Homo sapiens: one gene and its partner. The protein of the gene in region 1 purifies or fractionates together with the protein of each later gene. This does not show direct contact. Each region holds a gene or a part of one and is shown on either strand. Other genes may lie near its edges.

Region 1 (5,423 bases):
TGTGGCATTAAGTGGTAGAGACATGATTGGTATTGCCAAAACAGGTAGTGGGAAAACTGCAGCCTTCATTTGGCCCATGTTGATTCATATAATGGACCAGAAGGAGTTGGAACCAGGTGATGGACCAATTGCAGTGATTGTGTGTCCTACCAGGGAGCTTTGCCAGCAGGTATGTGCTTTCTATAGAATGCCTCCTTCCATATGTGGACTAGCAAGGGACCAGCCAGTCAAGTGAGGTAGAATGACCAGGAAACTTTTTTTTTTAATTGTGATAAGATACACACAAAATTGATTATCTTAACCATTTTTAATGTACAGTTCAGTGGCATTAAGTATATTCACAGTGTTGTGCTACCAGGAAACTTTTGGAAAGTATTATGTGTTAAATATTTTCTATATAACCAAATACATATTTTCCCCTAAAAACTACTGTTTTTATTTATTTTTATTTATTTGCTTTTTTTGAGACAGAGTCTCACTCTTTTGCCCAGGCTGGAGTGCAGTGGTGTGATCTCAGCTCACTGCAACCTCCACCTCCCAGTTTCAAGCAATTCTCCTGCCTCAGCCGAGAGGCTGGGATCACGGGCACACGCCACCACACCTGGCTAATTTTTTTATTTTTAGTAGAGACGGGGTTTCACCATGTTGGCCAGGCTGGTCTCAAACTCCTGACCTCAAGTGATCTGCTTGCCTTGGCCTCCCACAGTGCTGGGATTACAGGTGTGAGCCACTGTGCCCGGCCAGAACTACTTTTTTTAAGAGGAAAAGCCTATTGTGATATGGGGATTGTTTGTATTATAAGCTGACAGTTTTTCTGTAGGATGAGTTCATTTTATCTTGGTAGAAAAGCAGTGACAGGATCAGGAAGAGAAGGGGGTAAAATGAATAAAAGATTTTAGATAATCTGTTGAGATGCAATAATGGTATTCCATTCATTTATACCTTTATGAATAAAATCGTGGTTTTAAAGTATGTTCTAGGTTTCGATTTTTTATGACATCACATTCTGTTTTTCAGAACTTCGTTTGGGTTGTGACAGGTATTTGTTAGTGTCACAGTTTGTTAATATATTATTCACAACTTTGTAGATCCATGCAGAATGTAAGCGGTTTGGAAAAGCATATAATCTTCGATCAGTGGCCGTATATGGAGGAGGGAGTATGTGGGAGCAGGCCAAGGCCCTTCAGGAGGGGGCAGAGATTGTTGTGTGTACCCCAGTAAGTATGCCTTGTGTTTAAATGGCTTCTCAGCCTCCCTCGGTATGGAAAACATGATTAGTTTTGCAGAGAATTTCCCCTAAAGTGTGGTAAAAGCAGGGTTGAAAATATACTGATGAACGGCAGGCTGTGGTTTTAATTTTGATTGGTGGCTAAATTAGCAGTTCAGTGAGAGTCTCTGTGACATATAGGCTAGTAGCTACAAATTCCCCTCTATGTCAAATAGTTTTTCTTATACTCTCCCACAAAATGATTGCCAAGTTCATCAAGAATCAGAAAGATACATATGGTCAGAATAGCCTAGAAGAGTGTAGTTTAAACATTGAAACCTGTCATTATGCTTTAAATCAGGTCACTTTAGAATGCCTCAAAAACTGCTTCTGGCCACTTTCCCACAGAATTTAAATCACAGTGTAAATGAAGATGCCGATTGAGTTTTCAAAATTTCTGTTCCTTTGAGCTAAGTAGTGCATAAGGTATGTGGCTGTTGGACCAGTATCTATTACAGTCTGAGACTAGAGAATTAGCACTTTTGCCAGGAGTGCAACTGCTTAGAAAGTCCCTGTGAATGCCTTTAATTATACTTACTGTTCATTTTGTTGATCTTATAGGGTCGACTGATAGATCATGTGAAAAAGAAAGCTACCAATCTTCAAAGAGTCTCTTACCTTGTGTTTGATGAAGCAGATCGAATGTTTGACATGGGATTTGGTATGCCTTGAATACCAGTTTCTTCTGTCCCCATCCTCATGATACTAGTTTTTTTTCCATGTCTTTCTAGACTGTTTTTTCAGCATGAGAGAAGCTAAAAATACTCCTGGATGGGGTTAGACTATAGAAATATAGCTAAGATGAACATTTTTAGGAGTTTTCTCTGGAAAAGTATGTTAGGTTTTATTGGGTTGAGGAAATTTCAAAGTGCCTTTGTATATAAGGGGAATATTTTCTCTGTCTTCATTTTTATCCATATGCCTTTGATCATAGAGGTTAAGGTCTGTGTTCTTGGGTAGATGAATGTCAGATCATTCGAGGCCCTTTGCTTTCCTATCCTCGTAGCTGTCTTTACTGATTGGAACACTGCTAGACCTAGCCCAGTTGGATGGAGGGAAAATTTTTCACTTTTATGCTGAATGATATGTTTAGGAGCTTCTTTTTTCTTGAGACAGAGTTTTGCTTTTGTTGCCCAGGCTGCAGTGCAGCGGTGCGATCTCACTGCAACTTCCTCCTTCCAGTTTCAAGCGATTCTTCTGCCTCAGCCTCCTGAGTAGTTGGGGTGATAGGCACCTACCCCACAGCCTGGCTATTTTTTTTTTTTTTTTTTTTTGGTATTTTTAGTAGAGATAGCTGTGTTGACCAGGCTGCGAACTCCTGACCTCAAGTGATCCGCCTGCTTCGGCCTCCGAAAGTGCTAGGATTACAGGCATGAGCCACTGTGCCTGGCCTGGGGTTTCTAATTTTCTTAATTCTTACAACTTCTTATGAAGACTTTTACTAATATGGCTTTTTCCAGGCTTCCCAAACTGTATTTCAGGTTATAATAATTTTATTGTTCTGTTTCTTGCAGAGTACCAAGTTCGATCCATAGCAAGTCATGTTCGTCCTGACAGGCAGAGTATGTATGAAGCACCTTTGTTAAACCAAATTTGTACTAAAAAGGGCACTTATTTATTTTATAAGCACTCAGAGTTATGGAAGTAAAAATGATCTTGTGTCTGTTGGTGAGAACCATAATAAGGGAGGTAATGAGTTTATCTGAGCTGGACAGGATCTTAGCACTAGATATAACTTGTTCCTTTTTATAGATGATAAAACCAAGGATCAGAAATTAAATAAACTGCCCTAAATTATACAGTTTTATCAGTGGGTAGAAGCAGTGTACAGTACAGATCTGCTGATTTGAAATCAAGAGTCTTTTTCTGAACCATACTGACAACTTGTCTTAACTAAAAATGTAATAAAAATAGAATAAGAGCAAATCTTTCCCTAGTGAATCAGTTTCTAAACTAAATTTAAAGTTCAGGTGAGCTTATGTAAAAAAACTGAATAATCCTGAATGCCAAAGAAGCTTAATGGGTATGCATAAAGATATCATATTGTTTCTCTAACAGAATTTATCTTACCTTTTAGCTCTCTTATTTAGTGCAACTTTTCGGAAGAAGATTGAAAAGTTGGCCAGAGACATCCTGATCGACCCTATTCGAGTGGTGCAGGGAGATATTGGAGAGGTAACCCTAAGCAGGGCTGGATGGGACCTTAATGGGTTTATTTCTCATATTATGGAACACAGAATTAATTTCTCACTATTGAGATAAAAAAAAAAGATGTTATGTTTATAGATGCAACATGCTTGAGATTGGGTATTTTGCAAGTTGTGGGGATAGACGTAACAAGACTGGCAAAATGTTGGGAATCATTGAAGCTAGGTGATGGGTATGAGTTGATTTTGTTCATTTTGTGTTTTTTTTGTTTTATTGAATGTCTCAAAACTTACAATTGTTTTAAAAAGGCTTCAAAGAGACAAAAAGATGTGCCTGGAAGCATCAGCGTATTAGGTTGGAACTGACGTTTTAATTATTGTGGTAGGGGCCTACGCAGGAGGGAAAGGGTGACCTGGAAGGCCTGGAAAAAATCAGGTTTCATTTCTTACCTGTACATATGCGCTATGTGAAAAATTACTCTGAATTGGGACTTGGAATTCAGTTATGGCTGCTTAGAGAATCCTTCAGTTGCTTGCCATGGTTATTGTTAAGGAAAGCTCTACAAAGTAGTGGGGCATACAAATTAGGTATGTACACCAGGTGGAGAGCAAGGTGATTGGAAAGGAGAGGTGAGTTTTGAGCTGCACTTGACTTGCTGAAGGCCCAAGGAGAACTGGGATTGTTCAAGGTCTTCTCGATGCAGGTAGAAATATAATGCCTAGTCCTTGTTCAGGTGCCCTGTGGCTCCAATGTCACAATCATCTGTTTCATTTCTTCCTTCTCAGGCAAATGAAGATGTGACACAGATTGTGGAGATTCTCCATTCTGGACCTAGTAAATGGAACTGGCTTACCCGGCGTCTGGTAGAATTTACCTCTTCAGGGAGTGTCCTCCTCTTTGTTACTAAAAAAGCCAATGCTGAAGAGCTAGCGAATAACCTTAAACAGGAGGGTCATAATCTTGGGCTGCTCCATGGGGATATGGATCAGAGTGAGAGAAACAAGGTCATTTCAGACTTTAAGAAAAAGGACATCCCAGTCCTGGTGGCCACAGATGTTGCAGGTAGAGTATGAATTTTTCAACAACATTAAGTTCCTAGGCTATAAGGGTACTCTGTCTTACTACATAAGACCTATAATATCTGAGCAGGCTGATGGAAAGACTGTTGGCCTGGCTGGCCATCCCCTCCCAAACCCCCAAGGAAGCAGCAGTTCAGCACAGGGATCACAGTCTGGAGCTCTAGATACCACTTTTCACTTAGTATTTCTCTCTAATCAAAGAATCCCTGCAGCTAGAAGTCACTCTGGGAAAAAAGGCAGTGAATGCCCTTATTGTATGTCTGAATATAGTAGATACCTTACCCTTACATTGATCTACTATACACAGCTTAGTTGGGCAACTTAACTCAGGATGAGAACAGTTTTTGGAATATAATTTCTGGATTTGTTCTGTCAAGTTTTAATAACTACCCTTAAACACTGATATTTTTTCCTAGAAAGGAGAGAACTTCTCAGCTTCATGACACATTTTAAATATATATTCCCAGTGCAAGAGAAGAGGGCATGGCAGATTACTGATGCAAAAGATAAAAGTCCCAGTCGGGCACGGTGGCTCACACCTGTAATCCCAGCATTTTGGGAGGTGGAGGCGGGCGGATCACCTGAGGTCAGGAGATCGAGACCATCCTGGCCAACATAGTGAAACCCCGTCTCTACTAAAAATACAAAAATTAGCTGGGTGTGGTGGCGCGTGCCTATAATCCCAGCTACTTGGAAAGCTGAGGCAGGAGAATTGCTTGAACCAGGGAGTCGGAGGTTGCAGTGAGCCGAGATCATGGCACTGCACTCCCGTCTGGCAACAGAGCAAGACTCCGTCTCTAAAAAATAAAAGTCCCTTACACTAGAAGGCCTAACATCATAGAATCTGTGGTGGTGACTTAACATGCCTGTATCTCAGCTCACCAAACCCATGCGCTTTGCCTAGATAAAGGAAATGTGGCTTATTAGCA
Region 2 (4,100 bases), on another chromosome or scaffold:
TAAGAATAATAGGGCAGGTCCAAGAGAGTTTGTGAGTAGACGTTGACAGTGCTGCAGAGACGTGTGTGTGTGATGTTAGGATCTTCAGCTCATGGTTGTCCAAGTGTCTGGGAGAGATGAACTCAGCCCTGCTGTCTATTAGAGGCTCCAGTCCAGTTAGTACCTTGGCAGCTTCACAACAATATCCAGAGGGCTCAGTGGTGTGGTGCCCTTCTCCATCCAGAATGGAGTCACTTTCGTGAATAAATAGGGCTCCTGGCTCTAGCTGAATTATTTTTAAGTTAGATCATAGGCAGTAGTACCACCTAGAAGTCAAAAAGTTGGCCATGCTTGAGTTATATCATTGTAAAGCAGACTTTTTGTAAGTGTGAGAAAAATGTGAAGCTTTAAAAACCCCTCTGTACAAAAAGGTTTCCACCCTAGTTAATAATATCATAACATAGTAATTTGTTCCTAATGTATTAAGTCAACAGATATTTATTGAACATTTAGGTGCTATATTACTCAACTGGAGTAAATTACTTTACTCCCAAGAAGTAGATGTCTGAAGGGGATAGGAGTGAACATGTCAAATAATAAACTTGACTGAGTTTAGATTTCAAAGATGCTAGTAGAGGAGCTAAATTGTAAAAGGAAACACTTGGAGTCACCATTGACACCCACCCTATTGTATAATATAGCCTTTGCCAACCTATGATACGAATTGGAAAGTTAATAACCATTTCTGGAATGAACATTTTCATGTTAATAGCCTTCTGAGGCTAACTATAATTTTGCCAATTAAAACTTTTTTTTTTTTTTTAAAGAAAACCAGCAAAAAATAAAAGTGCCATCTCCTTGGTGCTGTGTTCATTTAAGAATCAGCGTTCCAGGCTAGACTTTATAGTCTGATTAAAACCAAAACTGTTACTAGGTTTTAAAAGTTAAATTTTTTTCTTTAAAATGATGAGTCAGCTTTGGTATAATTCAATTTTTGTAAACTGTTTTAACTACATAGGTAGAGCTTATAGGTATATCTATAATAAAAGCATTTTACTTCTTTGGGAGGATGCTGGCTGTTTTTGTGTCTTTTTGTAAGCTTTTTGGCATTTGTCTTGATTGTCCTCTATGTGACCTTGAGCAGAGGTTTCTGTAGATGTTGATTCTTGCTGTTTTGTCTTTGCAGTGTCAGATGTTTGTTTCAGTGGTTGTTGAGGTAAAACTGTATTGATTTTGTGTCCTCGGTTGCTTTTTGTTCTGCAGACACGTGCTCCCGAGTCAGAAGGGCCTTGCACTGGAGCCAGGGATGCTGTTAAGGTTCTCCCCTTTTTCCATGTTAACACCATTGCCTCACGTTTCTCATTGCCCTCACGTTTGCCCCGCTTCCCTTTCAGTCAGCCATCATAATCATCTTTGTTTTTCTCCATGACATGAATCTGCCATCGGTTAATTTGGGTTTCCGTTGTTTTTATTTATTCATATATTTTTGTTTTCCCTCATCCATCTTTTTTTGTACAGAGTTCACATGAGACTCTGAATATAGTGGAGGAGAAGAAGCGGGCAGAGGTTGGGAAAGACGAAAGAGTAATCACAGAAGAAATGAATGGTAAAGAGATATCACCTGGGAGTGGTCCTGGGGAGATTCGTAAGGTGGAGCCTGTGACACAAAAAGACTCCACCTCCCTGTCTTCTGAGAGCAGCAGCAGCAGCAGTGAGAGTGAGGAGGAAGACGTGGGAGAGTACCGTCCCCACCACCGAGTGACCGAGGGCACCATCAGGGAGGAACAGGAGTATGAAGAAGAGGTGGAGGAAGAACCCCGCCCGGCAGCCAAGGTAGTAGAGAGGGAGGAAGCAGTGCCCGAAGCCAGCCCAGTCACACAAGCAGGTGCCAGTGTAATCACAGTAGAAACAGTGATCCAGGAAAATGTAGGTGCCCAAAAGATACCCGGAGAGAAGAGTGTACACGAAGGCGCTCTTAAGCAAGACATGGGAGAAGAAGCAGAGGAAGAGCCACAGAAAGTTAACGGAGAGGTGTCCCATGTTGACATTGATGTTTTGCCACAAATTATTTGTTGTTCAGAGGTAAATGGGAGTCCCAGGTGGGAGCCAAACTCTAGAGCTGCTTCTCAGATGGGGAACTCCTGCCTTTCTTCTCCTGTCCTCCCAGTTCTTCAGCTTTTTTCAACAAGAATCTGATTTTTCTCTCTCATGGGAGGAAGGGGGAAGCACTGCTTTGTGGATTTTCTGCCCGCCCAGTTCATGGGTTCCAGCTTCTCTGCGGCCACTGGACACCTGTAGGGTAAACTTTCCTAGAAGCACCACATCAATTTTTCCTTCCCTTTTCACATTTAAATTTTTCTTTGCATGTTTTGGGTGTTTTCAACTGTTTTGTCTTCAGTTGCACTGCTTCCTCACACTAAATGCCTTTTTTTCCCCTTTTGGTTTAATTAGAAAAATGTATATGTAATGTTGAAAAAAAAAATGGTCACTGCTGAGTGTGTGTGCCCCTGATGTCATGATTGGGTTTGACTTCTTGGCTCATTCTTCAGCTTCAGAGTTTTAGAAATGACAGCAGTCTCTGATTACCGTGGTTCTCTGAATGCAGTATCCAGCAGTGATGAGAATGTTATTTCTTGAATGCCACTGTGATTTCTGTTTTGGGATTGCAGGGGTTGTATGGTTTTGTTAAGAGCCTTTCTTTTCTTCCAGGCAGCCAGAGGCTAGGCTATTTGATAGGAGGATATCCTCGCTTCTCATTCTATCCTGATGTCAATTCTGGAGTATTTGCCAGATGATTATATGTTTTGTGGATTATCTATACATTGGACATGAATCTTTTTCTTTTCAAAGAAGAGAACTTTTTGGTCACTAAGTGCAGTGTCTCTCATTTGGGAGTTAGGCTGAGGGAGGGTTTATTTCCTTGGGAATATTTCTTGATTTTAATATTAAATGCCCACAGTACAGAGATTTATTTTGTTCTCTTCGATGGGATGGAAAATGTTGAAGTGACTTTGTCTTAAAATAATTAAGTGGATTTTAACCATGTTACTTTTAAACTTCTGTTTCACTTTAGAGAAGATTTTTCAAGAGTCTTTGAACACTTTGAACTATTCTGTATTTAACATATCGTTACTCCTCTTTAAATAATTATGCCTGTTGAGAATGTTCTCTCAAAGAAAGTACTGCAGTATTTTGGTAGTAGTATAGTCTGGTGTTGCATTAATATTAAGCATGCATACTCGGCAGACTAAAATGTTAATAAGCCGTTGAATATTTCCTTTAATGTTTTAAATTGTTCAAAGCATTGGTGTAACATTGATGGAGTAATTTTAGATAGAGCATTTTAACTTAGGTAATACAGAAGAAACACTGCAAATTTTAGACAGGTATAACTGAAAACAGTAATACTTGAAGACATCCTTTCTGAAAATGGTGTGTCTGTTAACAATAAGGCAGAAAAGGTATTGTGGGCAGAAGAACAAATCTTAGCCTACCTAGCTGGCATGCCAGTTAAAGGCAGTGAGCCTTCACACAAACTATGTGGTCCTTTAAATTATAATAAAAATAGAGACAAGTCACTTCACATAGTTCATTCTATTTTCTTTTCAATTTATTATTACTTGCCCAAAGCTAAGGAGGGAGGAGGAGAGAGAGAGAGAGAGAGAGAGAGAGTGTGTGTGTGTGTGTGTGTGTGTGTGTGTGTGTGTCACTATACACTAGGCTTGACATAAAAGTAGTTTGGGACCATCTTAATTTAAAGAGTAACATAATTTAGGAAGCCATCATGTCAACTTATTTTTCATATATGTGTATGTACACATACACACATTCATATATATGTACGTATCTATGTGCACATGTATGTATGTGTATATATGATATATTTGAAGGAAAATTTTTCTTTTATTTCTTTTGTTTGTTTTAGGTTGTTTGCTTTTACTCTTTTCTTTTGTGCATGAGTGTGTGTTTGGATATGTTTCTTACTATTATTTGTGAAGGTTCCATTAAACACTTTTACTTTATTACCTCTAGAATTTATTTTTCCCTTCCTTTTCCACCTCAGCCACCAGTGGTAAAAACAGAGATGGTAACAATTTCTGATGCCTCACAAAGGACAGAAA

The links. Proteins that work in one complex are often made in the same cells at the same time.
Region 2: the proteins of DDX42 (region 1) and EPB41L2 purify together in Homo sapiens (affinity purification with mass spectrometry, with the first as the bait; one large-scale study listed by BioGRID). This does not show direct contact.

Annotation. Positions count from the first base shown.
Region 1 is NC_000017.11:63,807,732-63,813,154, forward strand, and holds part of DDX42 (ATP-dependent RNA helicase DDX42), read left to right. Parts: coding exon 1-169; intron 170-1,088; coding exon 1,089-1,217; intron 1,218-1,828; coding exon 1,829-1,928; intron 1,929-2,781; coding exon 2,782-2,829; intron 2,830-3,344; coding exon 3,345-3,442; intron 3,443-4,200; coding exon 4,201-4,477; intron 4,478-5,423. UniProt on the Homo sapiens protein: ATP-dependent RNA helicase that binds to partially double-stranded RNAs (dsRNAs) in order to unwind RNA secondary structures. Unwinding is promoted in the presence of single-strand binding proteins.
Region 2 is NC_000006.12:130,867,524-130,871,623, reverse strand, and holds part of EPB41L2 (band 4.1-like protein 2), read left to right. Parts: intron 1-1,242; coding exon of another isoform or gene 1,243-1,296; intron 1,297-1,497; coding exon 1,498-2,061; intron 2,062-4,042; coding exon 4,043-4,100. UniProt on the Homo sapiens protein: Required for dynein-dynactin complex and NUMA1 recruitment at the mitotic cell cortex during anaphase.